Regions from separate parts of the Homo sapiens genome. Here region 2 is linked to region 1. The links come from fine-mapping of genetic effects on gene expression. Tissue or cell type: whole blood. Region 1 holds a variant in brackets; the other region holds the start of a gene. All regions are shown on one strand. Distances are between the middles of the regions.

Region 1 (11,074 bases):
ATAGGAGACTGACAGATCTGACTACATGAAAATATAAAATATCTAAGTGTTAAAAGTGAACAATATAAAAAGGTACAAAGATTACTTAGACTTCTGTTGCTGGGACTAATTGTTTAACAGAAGTCCTCAAATGTATTTCATACACTCAGAATAGTAATGAAAGTAGAAGGACTAAAAAGATTTCTATATCAAATTATTTTTTATTTCTAAAGTGTAGACAAAGGCCACAATTTGTATTTTGATTATAATGCTTCAGACTAGTTGAACATCAGACATGGGCTTATATATTGCAAAACACAGAAAAACAGAAAAGTTACAACGTATCTTCTTGTGGGTTTTTCATAATGCCAAAACTAAAATGAATTTGCCTATAAACAAAATGGAGTCATTGAATAGGCTGTGTATAAAAGATAAGCCCAGGGTAATCAAGACTGTGTCATCACTTATATAGATGTGTGTATTGGGGGTGTATCTTACAGATGGATAATCAACACACATTATACTTTGGAAGATAATGAACAAAAGACCTACCAAAGAAAAAGAAAAAACACACAAGTGTCTAAATATGTGAAAAACTGTTCAATTTCACTGTTAAAGAAACACAAAATAAACAAGATGCAACTTTTTACCTATCAGTATGGCTAAAGATTAAAAGCAATAATATTTTAAGCCAGTGGTTCACAGTGTGGTCCCTAGACTGGCAGCATCAGCCTCATCTGGAAATTAATTACGTGCAAATTCTCAAGCCCCACCACAGTCTAAAATCAGAAATTTGTAGTAGGGCCCAGAACTCAAATTTAACAATCCTTCTAGGTAATTCTGCTAAAGTTTGAGAAAACTATTCTAAGGTGAAGTTGTAATGAGACAGGTACTTCATATTTTACTGGTAGAAAAGTAAATGGATAGAACTCTAGAAAGCAGTCTGGTAATATGTGTCGAAAACCTCAAAATGTTCATATTATTTCACCCCCAAATTTTACTGTTAGGAATATTCCTTAAGGAAGTGATCAATTTCTGATCATTTCAGCATAATTTAAAATAGCAGAGACTGGAAATAACCTTATAACTATATATAAAGGAATGGGTAAAAAAACCAAAAACCCAACTATGGTGCATCCATGTGTGTAGATAAAGAGATTCACATAGCAGAGTTACTAGAGGTAAATATTTTTAAAAATGTTAATAGTTATCTTTCTGGTTGTGGGGTTACACTGACCTTCTACATAGCAGGACTACAGGAAATGTAAACAAAGGGAACAATGGTTTGGTTTATAAGAATCATTTATAGATAACCACATTATAGTTTCTCTGAATAACAGTGTAATCGGAAGTGATCAGTTTCCCTTTCCCTCCTTTTTCTTTCTGTGCTCTTATCCAGTGCCCACTTGCAGGAGGTATCAGTCTCTCCTTCATTTCTCTGTTGCTAAAACTACTTTTTTATGCTCTGTTTCAAATGATATTGCTCCTTCTCATTGTTTATTCTTTTTATCCTATCATTTATGAATTTAGAAGCTGAATTTTAAACTGCAAAAGTTTAGAATTATGTTTAAATACACATGGTAAGTGTTACTCAAACAGATGTCAAAATATAAAATTGTGTCATGCACAATAATGCTACAGTTGTACTACAGCATAGTACAACTCACCTTGGAGTCAAATTAATCTGAGCTTAAATCTCCGTGCCATTTTCTAATTGTGTGACCTTGGACATGTTATTTAAGTCTTTCTGACTTACAGCTTCTATAAGGTAGAAATCATAATACTTTTCAAAGGTAATTTTGTGAAAATAAATGACCATATCCACTTAGTGCCTCATACAGAGCCATACAGCGTAGCAACAAAAATTTATTAATTCCTTTTTCTCTTTTTACCCATGACAGTATAATATAATGAGTTGATTTCAATTTGCAAAGATTTTTAAAGAGCTGGTGACAGAATGCATTTCTGTTACACTGTTGATATGAGAATGAATGTTATTTACCCACAGTGAATGCTGTCTATGGAAGATCCCCACAGAGATCCACTTAATTGAGTTATGATTATATATCTCATCTCAAAATTTGTAACGTTTCCATATTTTCCATATGGCATTATTTTAATTATTTAAGTTTAATTATTTTGAACAGTTGTCTTCAGGCTTTGTAAGATTATCACAAAATGATATAGCTGCATTTATTTTAGGTCACCGACATCTTCATTAAGCAGAATAGCATACAATCCTATCAAGTTCAAATCTACAAAAATGAATCTGAAAATTAAAATAAATAAATGACAACTAGTGAACTTCCATAATACATATAAACCAAATGAATATTCTTAATAATCTTGAAAATCAGTATGAAAAACCAAAGCAACCTTATAAAAATGGCAAAGGCTTTTGAACAAACTGGGTAGTAATCATATGAAAACATGATTAGCATTGCCCATAAAGAAATGAAAATCAGAATAATAATGAGATATATTTTTAATTCATAATATCAGCAAAATATCTCAAAGACTTAGATCAGAAAAACAGATCCTCTCACATAATATTGGTAAAAATATAAATTGGTACAGTCTTTTAAAAGGTCATATTGATATTATCAAAAGTATAAATGTGAGTACTCTTTCCTAGAGCAATCTGATTTCTAGAAATTTATTGTATAAACTAAAATATATACTATATTTTATTTATTTTAAGACACATATTTTTATATTTTAACATTTCTGAAATTAGAATGTTATGTTATCGTTTAATTGGCACTATTTTTTTTCTTTCTTGGTGTCATATAAAATAATTGTGTTTTTTAGAATTGACAGACTCAGATGAAATATGGTATGTAAGGATATATTATTGAAGCACTGTTTATCTTGGCAGAAAACTAGAAACAACGTAAATATCTATAAAATGCAATACTCCGTAGCCATTACAAAGAATAAGGAAGGCATTACGGTAGTATGACCATGATATATTTTAAGTAAAGACATCAAGTTATAGATTGATGTGTAAGGGGAAAAAAAAGATGAACACTGGGTGTACATTTGTATATGCACATTAAGATAGCTTTTATAATGAAATACTTTATTAATTTGATGCTAAGAAAGTATCTGGAAAGCCAACTTAATCTCATTAGAAAAGAGTCATGAGCAGAAAAACTTAAAATGAAATTCACCTTTTCGCTGGTCCATCCCATGCCTGCAAGGAAAGCCATGACCAACGTGCACAGTCCTCCTGATCCAGGGAAACCAAAATGCACACTGCTGAACACAGCTAGCACAGACAACCCCAACACAAGGAATGTTCTCTTACACACAAGTTTGTCCTTTAGGAGAAAAAAATTCATTTGCTCAATTATTTCAAATCCCTGATTTTTAATGATTGATTTTTTCCATATCTAGGATTTAGAAAGAAAATAAAAATTAAAATGTCTATATAAATAGACAAAACAAGTGCACTACATAACATTTACTTTCTCTTCTTAAACAAAAGCAGAGTTAGCACACTGCAATGGTGAGCTCTTCTTTCAGGAACACCAATTCTCTCCTCTACAGTTATCAATGCAGAATTTCACAGCACTTAATGAAGTAGCAGAAAAAAAGTACATGAGCTTTGGAGCTGGACAGACCAAGGTTAAATTTATAGTTTTTATACATTGTTGGTGTATGTAGTAGCCACATTACTTAACCACTCCAAGCTTTGTTTCCTGAAAGCATTTACATCATAGGGTTTGTGTGAAGGTTAAATATATATCTCTATTATTTTCAGGCTCTATGTTTACTGTTTTAAATTTGACGCCCCCTTGGTTTTTCTTTCTAAATCTTTGGAAACCAGGAAGCTTTAAGAGGTTCTAGACTGACAGTAGTTTTTGTTGCTGTTGTTTTAAAGTCTAAGAATTGTGTACTTTTTTTCCCTTTACTTTTCCCTGTCCAGGCTTTTAAACTTCTTGATCACTTTAGAAAGTAGGTCTTTAAAAGTGCTTGACTTGGCAAAGGCATGCAAGCTCTGAAGGTGAATTACCTGAGTTCATTCCCAGTTCCACCGCTTTCTAGCTATGTGACCTTGTTCAAGTCACTTATCCTGCCTAAGCCTCAATTTCCTTATCAGTAAAATGGTCATAGTAATAGAAATCTCTTTATGAACTATTTTGTCGGTTGTACTAGAGCAGTGTTTTCCAATAGAATGTTTAGTGATGATGGAAATGTTCTGTATCTGCTATAGCCACGTGTAGCTAGTGGCTACTGTACTGAACAAAGTGGCACTAGATGATGATTGACTGATTTATGTATGTGTGTATGCATGTATGTATTAGATATGGGCTCTTGCTGTGTTGCCCAGACTGGACTCAAACTCCCAGAGGGATCCTTTTGCCTCAGCCTCCTGAGTGGCTGGGACTACCAGGCCTGGCTAGAATCTAAGGTATTTTGATACTAAAAAAGGGCACAAAAAAGCTATTATATATCTGGGTTTAGTTGAGTATTATGAACACTTAAAAAACTTGCATATCCTATTACTTTGGAACGATATTATTTGTTTTACAGTGGAATTTGAAATGTACAGAATATAATACGGGAACCCATTACAGGACTGCATTAAAATCTTCTATATTGAGCCCACTTCATAAATCTCATGGATAGCAGTAAGCAATTTTAAAATGAGGAACCATTTGCTCAAACATGTCCTTCACATCTGTCTTTGAAGGAAGTGTTCTAGAATGTTTTCCCAATGATATTTCAGAGCACAACTTTCCCACATATTATTTCTTTCACCTGGTCACGGCTTGGAAAGTACTGAATGAAAAATCCAAGAACAGATCCAGTTGCCACACCAATTACCACCTCCAAAACTCCTCTGAGGACATTAAAGACAGTAGAGCCTGAAAAATATATTAAAAAAACTTAGAGCTCTAAATCCAACAAATACACAGGTTTTATTCCACAATCATCAACATGAAGCATCTAATTACAAAGAAGAAACATTTTAAAGACAGTTTCTGCTTTCCATATTCTTAAATATGTAAGTGGAACCTACATTTTCCCCCATAGCATATAGGATTTAGGAAACTTTAATTAAAAAAAATTTTTTGTTAGCACATTGTGCAGAAAATTATATTAAAGTTTCTCCACACATAAAGCACTTCTTCACAGACTGTCCTAAGAAAAATGTACTAACTGGTTTCTGTGGTCTCTTGTTATTATGGCAATCATTCTTCTTATCTAAATAAAATTACCTCTGAAGTAATTTTATTTAGCTAGGATCGCTTTCTACCAGGTAATGCTATGACTGTTAAAAACATCTAGTTGTGATAGTAGCATTATGCTTAAGCTATTGTGGTAATAATTTACTATGAATGTGTAGAAAGTAGCTAATTAGCTTTAGTCTCTGGTATATTGAGGTGATTAAAAAAAAAAAGTCTTGGGCCCCACCCCTAAAAATCTGATTCAGTAAGTCTAGCAGGGCTCAGATCCAAAAGGTCTAAGGACCACACGTAGTTGGTGG[G/C]GGGGTGGGGCGGGGAGAGGAAACACAGCAGAGTCAACTAGGAAGGTTCTTCGAGCTGTAGCTTATGAAAACCCCACTGCCTCTTTCCTTTCTCCTCCCACCACCATGATTCTAATGCAAACTCTGTTGCTCTAAAGCTGTGGTTCCTATTCCAAGCTGCACTGGTTTCCACTCCAAAAGGTTCTGATTTAATTGTCTAAGATAGGACCTACATAAGAGTATTTTTAAAAATCGCCCAGGTAATTCTAGTGTGATGGTAAGGCTGAGAACAATTGTTTTAAAGGTATATACCAGGAAAGTGGTAAGAACATAAATTTGGGTATGTGTAGTAGCATTAAAAATAGGAGTATGAATTTGACTTAATAGGTAAGAGAGCATCCTCAAAGGTTCTTGAACAAGAAAGTAATGTAATGAAAACAATGTTTTAAGAAAATCAATTTACTAGGGAATGGATGGAAGGCAGGCTCTGGAGCAATGAGACAGGGTGGGATTCTAGGTAACAGGCATAAATCATACACAATCACAGAATGGGGAGATAACTATAGGGAGATAACGAGAATGTATAACCTGCCAAGAAGATGTGTTCCCACTACAGAATCTAAAGCTAAACTTAGATTACAATTATACTTTGTCAATCATATAATGTTGCAAATTTTATATCCCAATTTTGAACATAAGATTAAGAAATGAACTTAAACTTGTGCTGTACCACAGGATAATAAAAGTGTTGAACTGCTTTTGGCCTTTTGGCTAAGATCAAGCGTACTATCTGTTCACATCAGTTTAATATAGGTGTTGAACAACAGTGGGAGAAAAAATAACTTAAGTTCCTCTTTTACTATACTTGAAACAAAATACCTCAATTTCAGACACTTACTAAGTATTAATGGGACATCCATTAAAATCATTGCTGTTATTACCCATAAAAAGCTGAAGAGGAGAGAAGAGAAATTTTTCTTATTTTAAAGGCATGCTGTTCCTTTCACTTGGACTGCTCTCTGTCATTTGTGCTCCTTGAAAAACCCACTCATATTTTGTGTGAAGTCTCCACACATCTTTTGTGTGAAGTCTCCACACATCTTTTGTGTGAAGTCTCCACACATCTTTTGTGTGAAGTCTCCACACATCTTTTGTGTGAAGCCTGAACGTTCCTGGATCACTTCAAGCAGAAACTGTTCTTTAAATCTTTCTACCTTCTACCGCCCCTGCCGTACTGCACCTACTGCATGCTACTTGAGCAGTCTCTAGAGGGAGCAAGAGAGTAAAGACAGACAGCTTCTGGACCCTCCTTAGGTACAGAACTCTTAGTGTTCTTTTGCCTATTTTTAATTTGCCTTAATCAATTATCAAGCAAATATGTCATGCTTATAACATTTTAACCTACGTCCCTAGAATGCAAGAGTAAAGCCTGTTGTGAACTGATTAGGTTACCTGTGGAAAAGGCTATGCCCAAGCATGTGTTGAAGCCAGTGATGGCCAGAATGTCATCGAAGCTGCCAGCTGCCATGAGCAAGGTTGGGACACCCTTCTCAACACCATAGCCTCCTCCCTGCAAAAGGAGCATTGAAGGCACCACAACAGCTGGAGATACAGCACCTAAAACAAAACTAGGCAGACAGCATTTTAAACATTTATGATAACATCTTACTTATTACTATTTTGAAATTATAATGCCCTCCACTTTTTAGGGGTTATACTTGGACAACAACAGTCTTTCTTTTTTTTTTTCTAAATTAAGAAAACAAACTTTAATAAGAATTGTTTTTTGTTTTTTTTTCTTTTTTTTATTATACTTTAAGTTTTAGGGTACATGTGTACAACGTGCAGGTTTGTTACATATGTATACATGTGCCATGTTGTTCTGCTGCACCCATTAACTCGTCATTTAACATCAGGTATATCTCCTAATGCTATCCCTCCCCCCCTCCCCCCACCCCACAACAGGCCCTGGTGTGTGATGTTCCCCTTCCTGTGTCCATGTGTTCTCATTGTTCATTTCCCACCTATGAGTGAGAACATGTGGTGTTTGGTTTTTTGTCCTTGCGATAGTTTGCTGAGAATGATGGTTTCCAGCTTCATCCATGTCCCTACAGAGGACATGAACTCATCCTTTTTTATGGCTGCGTAGTATTCCATGGTGTATATGTGCCACATTTTCTTAATCCAGTCTATCATTGACAACTACAGTCTTTCAAATGGCAGAGAAGCATGAATCCAGAAAAACATGTATGTGTAAAACTTCTACAGAACACTGTTTTTCAAAATGTAGCCATAGACAACTTGCTTCAGACTACTTAGGTTGCCTAAAAAGATATATTTATTAGTGGTATAGAAGGCCTAATGAGGGTAGGCCCCAGGATGCTGGCTTTTTTAAACAAAAAAATTCATGTTATAAGGTTTGAAAATGCATGGACTTTCTGATTTGGAACCCAGTGATGCTAGGCCTTCTATTAGGGCTTGCTATGTCAAATAAGGCAACAGATTAGAAGAAAACGATATGACAGTCACATTGATACCAGTAACAACAGCAGTGGTAACAGCAGAAAGCATTTTACAGTATTTACTATGTACCAGACACCATTTTGAGCACTTTACACGTATTCACTAATTTAATCCTCACAACAACCCTATAAAATAGACAAAATCTATCTTAATTTTATAATTGAGGAAACTGAGGCACAGAGAGATTAAATACTTGTTAAAGATCACACACCGGAAAAATCACAAGGCTGGGATTTGAATCCAGGGAGTAGAGTTCCAGAGACTTAACCATGAGAAGAATTTCTTACTTCTTGCCTCTTATTAGCACTAAATTCTTACTAAGTCCTGTCTTATTTATTTACTTTGTGTGGCTCTTAACTGTTGGAAGTAAAGAACTGACAGTGGAACGAAGAGACAGCAGAACTGCCAAGTCATAATAGTCTGGTGACAGGAGGAAAACAATAGTAGCTGTTGATCACTGTTGCTGTGTTTATTATCCTTTGTGCAGACGTTAGGTGGAATCCGGTATCTCTTTAACAGGCATTGAATCAGGTGTAGGCAAAAGACCACGACTTCTTCAACAGTTTGAATAGTAGGTGCTAACTGTAAGAGTTAGCGCCTATTAACACATAAACTATGTTTTGAAGTTAGAATATTTAAATTATGCTGTAACATCTATGTTGCATTTTCTGATATCTATAAGAAAATTCTATTATGCATTCTCTTGTATGCAATCAGGGAAAGCCCTAAATGTCCCTACATATTTTCATATGACAAAGAAACAATCATTACCCCAGTATAAATCCCCATTGCCATGGTAAACCCAGCAGGTAATGGGCAAGAAGAGCAGATGTGCACGCCTCCACAATACAGGGACCCATGGACAGTCTTACACAAACGCCCTTTAACTTCTTCAGGGCCTGAAATAGAAAAGTAGACATCCTAATATAATCCTCTGAAGATGTGCAGAGAAGATGACCTTGAATGCTTTCTCTTCAGTATATGGACCACGTCTGGGTCATCATGAGTTTTCAAGGTAATGAGTTGTATTTAACAAACATTTTAGCACTCCAAGTGTTTTCAGACAGCTTATTAAGTCCTCACTGCAACCTTATAAGATAGGTAATACTATTATTATCCCCATATTTTTAGATGTCCTCATCTGAAAAGGCACAGGCTAAAGGCATTTGCCCAAGATCATGAAACTGGTGAGTGATGGGGCCAGGTTTGAACCCAGGCAGGCTGCTTTCAGCATCTGTGTTCATAATCTCTAGCTAATTTAACATTCTCATTAGTTTTATTTATAATTTGTGGTCCCAGAATGAGACTAAAGTGAAGAGCCTGATCCCCCAAGAAAATTCATTCCTGTATTCAAAAACATACATGAAAAAAAAGCATTAAAAAGGCATACTTGACCCTCATTTTATATATTAGGCAGTTTCCTGAGCTAGTATAGTTAGCCCTGAACACTTGTATAGGGCTTTGCAAACCAAAAATATGTTGTTTTCTCCCCTGTGAGCATTATTTATAACCCTGGTCTATATGTACATCAGAGAAAAGTGGGGCCTTTATTCTTGGTGCTGGCCCCATAGACAGACTCTACCTTTCTCCAAGGAAGAGAATGAGACCGGCTGGGCGCAGTGGCTCATGCCTGTAATCCTAGCACTTTGGGAGGGGGAAGCAGGCAGATCACCTGAGGTCAGGAGTTTGAGACCAGCCTGGCCAACATGGCAAAACCCCGTCTCTACTAAAAATACAAAAATTAGCCGGGTGTGGTAGTGCATGTCTGTAATCCCACCTACTTGGGAGGCCTGAGGCAGGAGAATCACTTGAACCCGGGAGACAGAGGTTGCAGTGAGCTGAGATCAAGCCGCTGTACTCCAGCCTGGGTGACAGAGCGAGACTCTGTCTCAAAAAAAAAAAAAAAGGAAGAAAATGAGACCACCTTTTGAGTTATTGCAAACCACAACAAGGTCTCACTTGCAAAACAATCCTCCATGAAATAAATTCTATTTTATTCTCAAGAATGTCATGCAAAGTGTCCACATCCATTTCCTAATGCTTAGTGATTCTGTTAGATACCTGAAGCATTGAAGAAACAAGATTCCTATTTAATAATGAGAAATTTACATTTCATACCTTTGAATCCAGACCAAGGCCAGCACGAACCAGAATGATAGACAGGGCTATGCTTCTCAAAGAGGAAGACCACTTGTGCTTGATCTGCACATTATCGTTGATGACTGGGATATTTCTGATGAGAAACCCTGCAAGCAGCATGCCTTGAACGAAGAAATCAAACATATCTAGTTAGTTTTCAAATACAGAAAATATTTTTAGTACTTTAATTTTATACAGACTACTATATAATCCCAGGAACCACTTCACTTATGCTTAGAAGAAATTAAGTTAAACTTTTAAGTAAAAATTAGTATAATAAAGCAGCTAAGAAAATAATGTACAGATAAAAAGATAGATTATAATAATTAATATTCCCAAAATAACTGAACTTAAAAGGGAGACAAGATGCAGCATTTGGATAGAGAGTATGATCAAATTCTAAATATAAAATGTTTTAATACAATGCCAGCTCAGTCAGCCCTTTGCGTGCAAACAGCAAACAGCGCATGAAATTATTTGCTATGTCAGATTACTTGAAATATCAATAAATACTTATATGGATTCTATTTTACCTTCAGATTAGATAATTTCATAAGAGACAGATAATCTACTTTGCAAAGGTTTTAGATGTCAATTATGATGAAATGGACATTGCCCTGTCATGTCAGCTGGTGACTCTTCTTTCACTCAGTCATTCAACTGTACTGAATGCCTTCAGTAGTTTAGACACTAGAGTATGTATCACACATATAATAATGGATTACATTTCAACAAGCTTTCAGCCTCTAGGGAACAAGACAAACGGACAATACCAATTTTATGAAGGCATGAGGGGGATGTTACATGAGCTGAGGCAGGAAGGGGGATTTAGAGAAGGGGGAAGAGGATGAAGAAACGGCTAGGGGAGTTGAGAAGTTTCTGGAAAAGACAGTAGTTTATTCAAAGGTAAAAGAAAAAGTGACTCATTCTGAAAACTGCAAGTAGTTGAGTGTAACT
Region 2 (11,074 bases), 31 kb after region 1:
CATTTATAGTGGGGGCGACAGAGCAAGACTGTATAAAAAAAGAAAAAAGAAAAAAGTTTTCTTAACCTTTTCTCCCCACTTGAAAGAATTGTCCTTAAGAGATCAAGAATATAAGCAGTTTGATATATGTACCTGTTAAGAAGGAAACAGAAAAAAAAAATCCTTTAACAGCAGTTGCCTTTGGGAAGGGAAATGGAAGAGGAGTGGCTGGACTTTCTTTCTTATTTTCTAAGAAAGATTTTCTTATGTAGGATTTTCTTATGTAATTTGATATATATATATATTTTGTTGTTGTTGTTGTTGTTTTTTTGAGATGGATTCTCGCTCTGTCACCCAGGCTGGAGTGCAGTGGCATGATCTTGGCTCACTGCAACCTCCGCCTCCTCGGTTCAAGTGATTCTCCTACCTTGGCCTCCCAAGTAGCTAGGACTAGAGGCATGCACCACCACGCCTGGCTAATTTTTGTATTTTTTTTTTTTTTTTTTTTAGAAGGAGTCTCACTCTGTCACCAGGCTGAAGAGGGATTGCAATGGCACGATCTCAGCTCACTGCAACCTCCACCTCCCAGGTTCAAGTGATTCTCCTGCCTCAGCCTCCTGAGGGACTACAGGCACATGCCACCATCCCTTGCTAATTTTTGTATTTTTAGTAGAGACGGGGTTTCACCATGTTGGCCAGGATGGTCTCGATCTCTTGACCTCATGATCCACCTGCCTCAGCCTCCCAAAGTGCTGGGATTACAGGTGTGAGCTACCACACCCGGCTAATTTTTGTATTTTTAATAGGGATGGGTTTCACTATGTTGGCCAGAATGGTCTCAAACTCCTGACCTCAAGTGATCCACTGGCCTTGGCCTCCTAAAGTGCTGGGATTAGAGATGTGAGCCACCCTGCCTGGCCCTAATTTTAAATACATTTAAAAATAATCTACTCAATTCCTAAAGCTTTAGAGAAAAGAAAATGGTACCACATTTCTTGGTAATATTTCTCATAGATACAGTCTGGTGATTTGATTTGAGGTAACTTAATAACACCTGCCACAATTTAAAATCATTTTTTGTAGTTGTGATTTTTCAAAGAAGATGAGTAACTGCCCAGAATCACCAATAGCAGTGGTTTTCAAAATTTTCAAGTTTGGCTTTCATGTTTTTTTTTTTTTTTTTTTTGAGGTGGAGTTTCGCTCTTTTGCCCAGGCTGGAGTGCAGTGGCGAGATCTCAGCTCACTGCAACCTCTGCCTTCCGGTTTCAAGCTATTCTCCTGCCTCAGCCTCCCGAGTAGCTGGGATTAAAGGTGCCGGCCACCATGCCCAGCTACTTTTTCTATTTTTAGTAGAGATGGGGTTTCACCATGTTGGCCAGGCTGGTCTCAAACTCCTGACCTCATGATCTGCCCGCCTTGGCCTCCCAAAGTGCTGGGATTACAGGCGTGAGCCACCGCACCCAGCCCTGGTCTTCATATCTTTATGTCAAATATCTTTCATCAAATGAAACCTAATCCTTAAATCCTACAAATGGAACGACTAAGGTGGCGCTGCAGGAGCCCTGTCTACTCACCCCTGTTCCTTCTGGCAAGTGGAGCATACTTTGGAAACCATTTCTGTAAATATGTTTTCACATAGAGAGATATTTGTTAAATGTTCTCTTTTTCATATTATCTTACTAATGTAAATGTTTACAAGTACTTTCTGTAATATTCCAGAAGAAATAAAGGAACTATCAACTTACAAATGTCCGTAGGCTCTCGGTCAAGTAAAATAGACTTACTGCTATCATTTCAGTTACTGCTAAAAGATATGGATAAAGACTTTTTATTCTTGCTATTTGCTGCCTGTGATTTGGATAGGCTGACATTTAAAGGAGTAATCTTATGGAGAATTTACATATATTGCTTGCTATGGCTTGAATGTTTGTGTCCCTCCAAAATTCAGATTTTGGAATGTAACTGCCAAGGTGATGGTATTAAGAGGGAGGTACTTTGGGGAAGTGATTAAGTCACCAGCACTCAACCCTCATGAATGGGACTAGTGCTCTTATAAAAGAGGTCAAAGGGAGCAGCCTAGTCCCTTTGGCTCTTTCCCTTCCACCATCTGAGAACACAGCATTAGTCTCTTCCTCCATGTGAAGAAGACATGGCAAGAAGGCACCATCTTGCAAGCAGAGATCAAGTGTGTAACAGACATCAAATCTAATTAGCACCTTGACCTAGGACTTCCCAGCCTCCAGAACTGTGAGAAATAAATTTGATTATTTATAAATTAATTAGTTTGTGGTATTTTGTTACAGTAACAAAAATGGACTAAGACATTGCTAGAGTACTCTGGGTTGTATTCATGCCTTTGAAAGAGCATCACTATGATTGTTCAATACTCTATAATGATAATAATAACAACAATCTCCTGCCTTTGTGTTCATCCATTCATGTGTTGAACGTATAGGTTCTCAGTCTCATACAGTATTTCTACATAGAACATACAGAAACATTCCAGTTTCTGTATTTGCTTATCAACACTGATCTAATGGTCATTTCCCAAAAGGAGCCCTACCCAGCAATGAGGAATTCAGATCAGGCTCAGAGTAGGGCTTAACACTTTCTTAGACAATTAATTACTAAAATGACTAACAGTGTTTCCCTGAATGAGAACTACCTTATCTGAAAGACTTAGGTGTGTCAAATACATGTGGCCAAGTTACCAAAGGAAAACAACCGCTATTTTATTTGGTTAATTGATTTAGTAATTTCATTGACTCATGAAGGAAAACACTATATAATGAGATAAGAATAAAAGGAAATTACCCCTACATAAGGGACCCAATACTTGCTTTCATCCTTTCTATTCTCTCTCCTCACCAAAGTGAAATATACTTACTAAAAGTTTAAAATATTATTTCTAGGCCCACTAAAATCAGAATCTACAGAGACCGAATCTACCCCAAGTGGGACAGACATGACTTATGGCCTGTCTAAATGCCAAGTGTTCAGGTATGCCAGTAGGACCCTTCTCCCGCCCTAGGGATAAGTCATTATTGGTGTAAATCAATCTCTGTAACACCATTCCTCTTTGCCACTTATTGGCTAAGGAGTGAGCATGATTCATTTCTTGCCATTGGAATTTGTAGGCAAGACTATTGGGGCATATTACATAAGATTTTCCTTCTTAATAAAGACAGAGAGAGAGGAGGAAAATCCTCTCCTCTTTTTGTCTTTAAATGACCAGGTAAAGAGGCAAGGGAAGTTGGGATTGTGGATGGGTTTCTTGGGACAATTCTAGCAGCCATCATTCACCCATGAAGAAAAGTCAAGATTAGCTGAACACAGAAAGCAACATAGAGCCCTGATATTACTGAGCTACTGAACAAACCCTGGACCCACCTACCTTCAAACATCTTCATGTATGAGCAAAGTACATCTGTATTTTTGAAGGGAGTTTTGGCTGAATATCCTGTTACTTGCAGCCAAAAGCATCCTAACCAATATAACAGGTGATTTTGTTGCAGAACCATCCCTGAGAAGCCCTGATGAACAGCAGTGATGAGGAACCTCTGTCTTACAAACTTTAGTTTCTATCTTTCTAGCTTCTTGTTACAGTGCAAAATCATCATAGACAATGAATGATCAGAACACTGCCTTTGTATTGAAATTTCTCAAAAATGTCCAGAAAATAACATTTTATAAAGTTAAAAATTAGTGCCAAGGTTTTCACTGCCATTCTTTTAGTCAACAGAAATTATTTGGATTGTAAGATTATGTATTTCCCCTCCTCTACCCTGAAGTTAAATTGTAATATTTGAATACTGAATGAAGAAAAGTTGGACTTATAAACGTTTGGTTGTTTTCCAAATTTCCACTCATGAAACAAAACAACAACAATAAAATATCACTACTATTGCTGCCTGGAGTTTCATTTCTGCTTTTTCTACTTGAAGAAATTCAAAATCTAACTCAAATGTCACCTTCTCAGTATTTCCTAACTCCAACATTGACAAACTGTCTCCCTCGTTTTCCTCTCTGATGATTCATTCATTCATTCAACAAACAAGAGCTATTAAGCTCTTGTTACGTCCCAGTCCTTGAGCTGAGGATTCAGAAGTGAACGGTCTTAAATAGTTCCTATATTCAGATCTTGTAATCTAGTTACAGGATGATAAAGGATGATAAATGATTCCTAAGCAATCACAATGAAATATGGTTAAGTTTCAACTTTAGACACATAACAACCCCATCCCTTAACAAGTTTCATTTCCTTTTTTTTCTTTTCTGAGATGGAGTCTTGCTCTGTCACCTAGGCTGGAGTGCAGTGGCACAATCTTGGCTCACTGCAACCTGTGCCTCCTGGGTTCAAGCGATTCTTCAGCCTCAGCCTCCGGAATAGCTGGAATTACGGGCGTGCACCACCATGCCCAGCTAATTTTTATATTTTTAGTAGAGATGGGGTTTTACCATGTTGGCTAGGCTGGTCTCGAACTCCTGACCTCAGGTGATATGCCCACCTCGGCCTCACAAAGCCTTAACAAGTTTCTCTGGTGTGATAGGCACAAGAGTAACAAAGATGACTAAGATGCAGTCTGCCCTTTAAGGGATGGTCAGAGACTGATATGTGTTTACCAAAATCGTTTACTCTTCTGCCTGGGTCCATAGTACATTTCCAGTCTCCCTTGCAGGTCAGTGTGGCATGTGACTGAAGTCTGGTCAATGGCATGTGGACATAAATAGTATGTGATTTCCAGTCCTCACCCATAAGAAACAATCCTCATGCAATCCTCTAGTAGCTTTTCTTTTTCTGTCCGTTGCCTGGAAACTAAGGACTCCAAGGTCTTAGGGGATAGCAAAGCCATAATATAAAAGGAGTTTGGGTTCCTGAATAATTGAGTAGAAGGCCAACAGCTGAACACGTGAATGGACTTGACATGAACGAGAAATAAGCCTGAACTATGTTTAGTTACTGAGATGTTTTACTTTATCTCTTACAGCAGCTACTGCTGTCTTAAGGTTATATTCTTCAGTCAATAGCATACGATGATTCTTAGCACCTCGAGGATGCTAACCCAGTCCACAAAGGCAACACCCCCTCTGGTTAATCTGAGAACTAAAATAAAAGCAAGCAAGAAAACCCACGCCAACACCTTACAACAGTAAACAGACACGCGCCCGTCACCGGGTGTACAAACAGAAAAGGCTGGGCCCCTCGCTCGCGTCTCCGGTCCAGCAGGCCTACAGGGTACCCGCCGCTGGCGCTGGGTTTATTTTTACCCTTAGTGTCTCTGGGGCCTCTCACCTGGCAGTCTCCGGCGAAGTCGACCAGGCTCCGTCTGAACGATTAGGAAAGGGGCTGTGGGGGAGGCGGCGGAGCCCGGTCTAGCCACCGCGCTCTGGGGTTCCCGATTCGCGCATCTTCCCAGGCTGAGCCGGGAGGCTGCGTTGACTGCAGATAAACGGTCTCAGGGCGCGGCACCGCGTGTAGTCGGCCCCGCCTTTCGCACGAACCCGCTGGGCGACACCGCGCAGGGAGGTCCGACCCGTCGGCGCCGGTACAGGCTCCGGAGTAAGCATGGGTTGGTCCGGGGCCCGCAGCGGCAGCCCCGTGTGCCCTCCGCCGGGTTTCAGGTCCGGCGGCGCGGGTGCAGAGCCGCGTGCGATGCCTGGTGCGCGTGGCTTCCCCCGGAAAGGTGGCGCCAGGCCGACCATGGGCCCACGTCCCGGGGCCTCGGAGCGGCACCGCGCGGTCTTTCAGCTGCTTATCCTCCCTGGGCGGGTCCGCAGGCTTCTGGGGCCAGGACCAGCGAGCTCCCGGGAAAGCTTCCCGGAAAGCTTACCCAGAGAGCGCGGACCCAGGCGCCGAGTCTTCCCGGAGATGACGAGACACCGCGAGAGGAGCACAGCGCAGGCTCCTCGGGACTCCGCGGCGCAGGCCGGGCAGCCCGTTACTTGTTTTATCGTTCCCGAAACCAACCTCTAAGTTGTCTATCAGTCCTCCACCTTTTAGCTGTACCTCTTAGAAGTGTCTTCTCAGCTGCGGTGGGAAGATAGGATTCTTTCTTAAGGTGACCAATTAAATGGCCGGATAAAAGACTTGTTCTGCCCCCCTTTATCGCTTAACACCTGCCCTTCTTGTTGTATTTTAGATTTTTAACCCTTCTATCAGCAGTGTGATTCTATTTCATTTAATTCTCATTTCATGTTTGTGTCTTCCTTTTCTCTGTATTTCCTCTTGTGTGTGTTAAGACGCGCGCACCCCTTACCTGTTTTTCACTCCTGTAAGCAAGTGCCAATCTTAATCACCGCTTTTCAAGCAAGGGAGATTATCCTCAAATTTCTCCACCAGTCAGAAACCATTCATTCTTGTCTCTCAGGTCCTCTTTTGTGATGAACCTATTGGATAGGTTCCATCCAATACCCTTCTTCAGATCATCTGAAATGATTATTTTCCTAAACGGAACTCTTCCTCTCCTAAAGCTTGTAAAAATTTCTAGTGACATTCAGCTTCCTCTTACCACAGGAATGACATATATTTTTCCTTTTAGTCATATGTACTTCATTAATATATCACCTGATTTGATTAACATGACTTTGGAGAACATTGAATTTTTTGGCTAGATTTTACTTCGTTTTTATTGCTGATAGTGTTTATAAAAATGTTTTATAGTTTATGGTCGGCTGTGAGAAAGACTAACTCAGATCATTTGTTAATGTTGGAGCCCATTTTGTAGAATTCGTTGTGCATTTATTTAAAATTTATTTGTTCATAGCTATACATATATTATACATGTATACCTGCTCACAGCATAAAGTATTTCATGACATACTTGTAAGAGTCAGTGTTCTATGAATTCACTAGAGAAGTTACAGCATTTTGATTATGATACACGAAAAGAAACCCAAGTCATTTAGCTTAACTCCTTAATTTCATAAACCAGAAAACTAAAATCCAAGATAGATTGGGTGACTTGGTCTAGATCACAAACCAAAGTTAGCCATAATTCGGTAGTGTAGTGCCCGGTCCAAAACCTCATAGATAATCTTATAATCAATGGACTCTTTCTGAATGCTAGTCAAAATGTCCTTTTGTGTGAATTTTAATGTACCGTCATCAACTGCATGATATTCTTCCCCATACACAAAGTGTTATCTTTTTGTTGTCCATTTCAGAATTTTCCATGTTAATATTAAAGTTCTAGGAAAAAAGGCTAAGAATCACTGCACATTTATTGAGTATCTCAGTGTGCATCATACCATTTGGTCATTTGAGGTTGCAACAAGTAAAAAACAAACATAAAACCCTTAAATTAAAATAAAAACAAAAAACTTTGCCCTGACAATGTTACAGAATTAACATCCATAAATTTACTTTTCTTGAAAAATTTATTTTCTTTAATTTCGTTTGTTTCCTGTTACATAATTTATATTTAAATTTACATTTATTTATCCAGAAACTATGTCCAAATTTTATGTCCTCTTTTCTGTTATCCTGGAGTTTGGTGAAGAAATCTGTACTTAATTTAGAAAAGAAATCCCTCTAACTGACAATATTGTTAGCTAACTATATATTTCTTAGGCCCATGTCAAATATCATTGCTTATTTTAATAAAGATTGTTTAGTTAGACTAAGAAAATAGTAAATAATAAGGGATGGCATCCGTTAAGTATAAACACTGGATTATTTTTCATAACATAACAGGTCAACAATATCGTTTTGAGGCTGAACTCCTTTACTCCTTTTACTGTAAGCTATTGAAGCCAAACTCCTTCCTACCTTTGTTCATTTATGATGGTGTAAAATTTTAAAATTAGGATCTACATACAGAACAATGCAGAATTATATAAAAATATTTGAATATTGAAAAATGAAGTGGAAATTATTATTATTATTTAGGTACAGGGTCTTGCTCTGTCACCCTGGAGTGCAGTGGCATGATTACAGCTCACTGCAGCCTCAAACTCTTGGGCTCAAGTAATCCTCCTGCCTTAGCCTCTGTTAACCATGCTGGTCCTGAACTCCTGGCCGCAAGTGATCCTCCTGCCTTGGCCTCCCAAAGTGCAGGAATTATAGGCATGAGCTACCATGCCTAGTCCTGAAATTACTATCTTCTTCCTTAACCCCCATCTCCCCCACAAAAAAACAAAAACTTCCTTTTTTCTTCATATTTACATTTTAATTGTATATGCTGCAATGGCCTATTTGTATCACCCCAGAGTCATGTGTTGACATCCTAACCTGCAATATGATACATTAGGAGGTGGGGCCTTTGGGAGGTAATCAGGTCATAAGGGTAGTGCCCTCATGAACAGGATTAGTGTCCTTATAAAAAGACACATGAGCGCTCGCTTTTTTTCTCTGCTCTTGCTATGTGAGGATACAGCAAGAAGAGGACCATCTGCAAACCAGGAAGTGGGCCCTAACCAGAAACTATATCTGCTGGCACCTTTATCTTGCACTTCCTAGCCTCCAGACTGAAAAATAAATGTTTGTTGTCTATGACACTCCATCTATGGTAATTTGTTATAGCAGCCCAAAGTGACTAAGACAGATGCTAACAAATCGAGATTTATTTTAAAAACTATTCTCCTGCTATGAGTTCAATATTTTTATTTCTTTACAATGATTTCAGAAGAGATTACAAAGAGATTAATATACTTAAAGAATCAGACTCTTGCAAACAGTGACATCATTAAAAAGAGCTTATTTTCATTAACATGTGATTAACAGGAAGGAGATGATTGGTGAGTTTTCTTCGTAACCAGGTTCACTGTGGATAGGAAGGGCCTGCCTTCCTTCCCACCATGGAGATCCTAAAATCACAAGCTCCAGCCTCCATCAATGATGACAGGGTTACCAGTTACATAAGCAGACTGCAGTGATAAACACAAGGAGACAGAACAATTAACCAGGTTTGATACAGGCTGTATTTTGAAATTTTCCTGTGACTAGGATAACTAAACAATTTACCCTTGTCCTAACAGGAAACCTCACTTAAACACTTAATTCAGGGAAATCCAAATTAACATTTGGTTGATTTAGAACTGCTGAGTGTCCTGTGATCTGGAACTAAATGGCCTCTGGCTGGTGTCTAAGCACCTGTCACTGTTAGGTATTTGGTCTCAGAATCCCCAAATTAAGGAACAGTGATGTATAGCCATTCCCCAAATTAGGATATAGGCTAAAAGCACATTTTCATTTTGAAACTCAGAACTATTCAAAACTAGCTAAGTTTTATGCCACTAATAAACTTTTGAACATAAGTGTATCAGTCATAAAATGGTCATATTAATGACCAGTTTTTTAAAAAAGACAGCATATATTTAGTTGATCAATTATAAGTGGATAATTGTAGGAGCTGAAGCACACTAAATGTGTTTTAAAAATTTACATGAATGATAATAACTATAATCCATTAAGCTATAAAAATATTCTATATTAGTTTCAGATATCCAAATCTTTATAAAACTAAGGAATTTAAAAAATAATTACTGGTTTATTCCCATAAATTTTTCATTTTCTAAATAAGGCTGAAGTGATCTTTTTGGTAGAAGTTTAAAAATCTTTTAACTTAAAATGGATAATAAAGACTCAAACAGTCTAAATTCATCTGAAGCCTGAAACAATGGAAGAGGAAGTAAGGATATCATAATGAATAGAGAAATTTTAAGAGTTCAATAGATAAAAGCTGATAATATACAGTAGGTGAACTAGGGAGTTATTAGTCACTTCACCAAAGAAATACCTCCAACTCCCCCAAGTTCTTTTAAAAGACAAGCTCTGTTACACATATGAACTCCTCTGGAAACCTCTAAAAAGCCAAAGGTACTTTTGTAGCACATTTCAAGCCACAACACTTCCAAATATCTTGTAACCTAAGCTCTGGCTAACTAAGGGTAATTTAGCTTATCAGCAGTACCCAAATCAAATGAGCTATTCTGAAGATACGGATTCAGAGAAATCACAAAGGCTCATGTGCTTCTTCATTAAACATTTGTCTATTAATTTCCCCAGCTATTAACAATTGTTGTTAATAGTTGGGAGAAGTTCTGAGAAGAAACTGCGCTGTCACGGAAACATTTCAATCCCTGTATTTGTCACATTCACCAACTATCTGGTGTGCACCAAGTTACTGGGAAGAGGAGCTATCAGTTGTTCCCTCCTCGCTCCCGCCTAGTCCCCTTTCCTTCCCTCTTCTCACACATTACAGTTCCTTGTTCCTGTAGTATTCAGAGACATAAAACAGAGGAGGACCTTCTTGTGCTCTATACCTTATAAGCATCATTTTTGCTTTCATCTTAAGCCATTTAAAAGTAAACAATAGTTATTAAGGAAAAAACTGTTAAACAGATGCAAAGTGGAAGAGATTAAATTAGGAATTTCCATACACGATGATGAACAAGTAAGAATTTTTAAAAATATTTATTTATTTTGAGACGGAGTCTCACTCTGTCACCCAGGCTGGAGTGCAGTGGCGCAATCCCGGCTCACTGCAACCTCCGCCTCCCTGGTTCAAGCGATTCTCCTGCCTCAGCCTCCCGAGTAGCTGGGACTACAGGCGCCCGCCACCACGCTCAGCTATTTTCTGTTTTTAGTAGAGACGAGGTTTCACCATGTTGGTCAGGCTGGTCTCAAACTCCTGAACTCAGGTGATCCGCCTGCCTCGACCTCCCAAAGTGCTGGGATTACAGGCATGAGCCACCATGCCCGGCCACAAGTAAGAATTAATAGAGAAAAAAGAGCCAGTGGAATTCTCCCAAACAAGTCACAAGTAAAACTAAAACACCACATGCGAATTCTGTGTCCACTGAACACAAATCTGCTTAATCCTCTCCCCATTTCACTTAGAGCTCTTATAATCCTGGAGGTTCAATTTTTTGACTTGCATTTAATCAGGGTTTCCCCAATTATAATTTTTGAAAGGAACTGTCTCTCAGAAAATTGAGCACTTTAACTTTTTTAGTCCTCCATTTTGTTTGCTACAAGATTTTATGTAAAGCTGAATAAGGAAGAATTAGTGGCTCAGATCGAAGTGGTCTTTCTTTGAGCAAATTAAATGAGAACTTATCCCTATCTTATAAATGTAGCATCTTAGCACATATA

The links. PIP is the estimated chance that this variant, and not a neighbour inherited with it, causes the effect.
Region 2: SLC9B2 starts here. The variant in region 1 is fine-mapped to the expression of SLC9B2 in whole blood (TOPMed, PIP above 0.99).

Annotation. Positions count from the first base shown.
Region 1 is chr4:103,040,144-103,051,217 of GRCh38, forward strand. It overlaps SLC9B2 (solute carrier family 9 member B2), which reads right to left. Exons shown (of 12, transcript NM_178833.7): 5 at 10,097-10,239; 6 at 8,750-8,877; 7 at 6,908-7,083; 8 at 4,747-4,853; 9 at 3,153-3,302. Among named protein-coding and RNA genes, the nearest start is that of SLC9B1, 26 kb to the left of the region's middle. The variant G/C (reference allele first, on the strand shown) is at 5,477.
Region 2 is chr4:103,070,912-103,081,985 of GRCh38, forward strand. It overlaps SLC9B2 (solute carrier family 9 member B2), which reads right to left and starts at 5,850. Exons shown (of 12, transcript NM_178833.7): 1 at 5,273-5,850. It overlaps BDH2 (3-hydroxybutyrate dehydrogenase 2), which reads right to left. Exons shown (of 10, transcript NM_020139.4): 10 at 6,681-8,844. The coding sequence ends at 8,791. RefSeq lists a silencer at 5,510-5,619 and an enhancer at 5,730-5,849.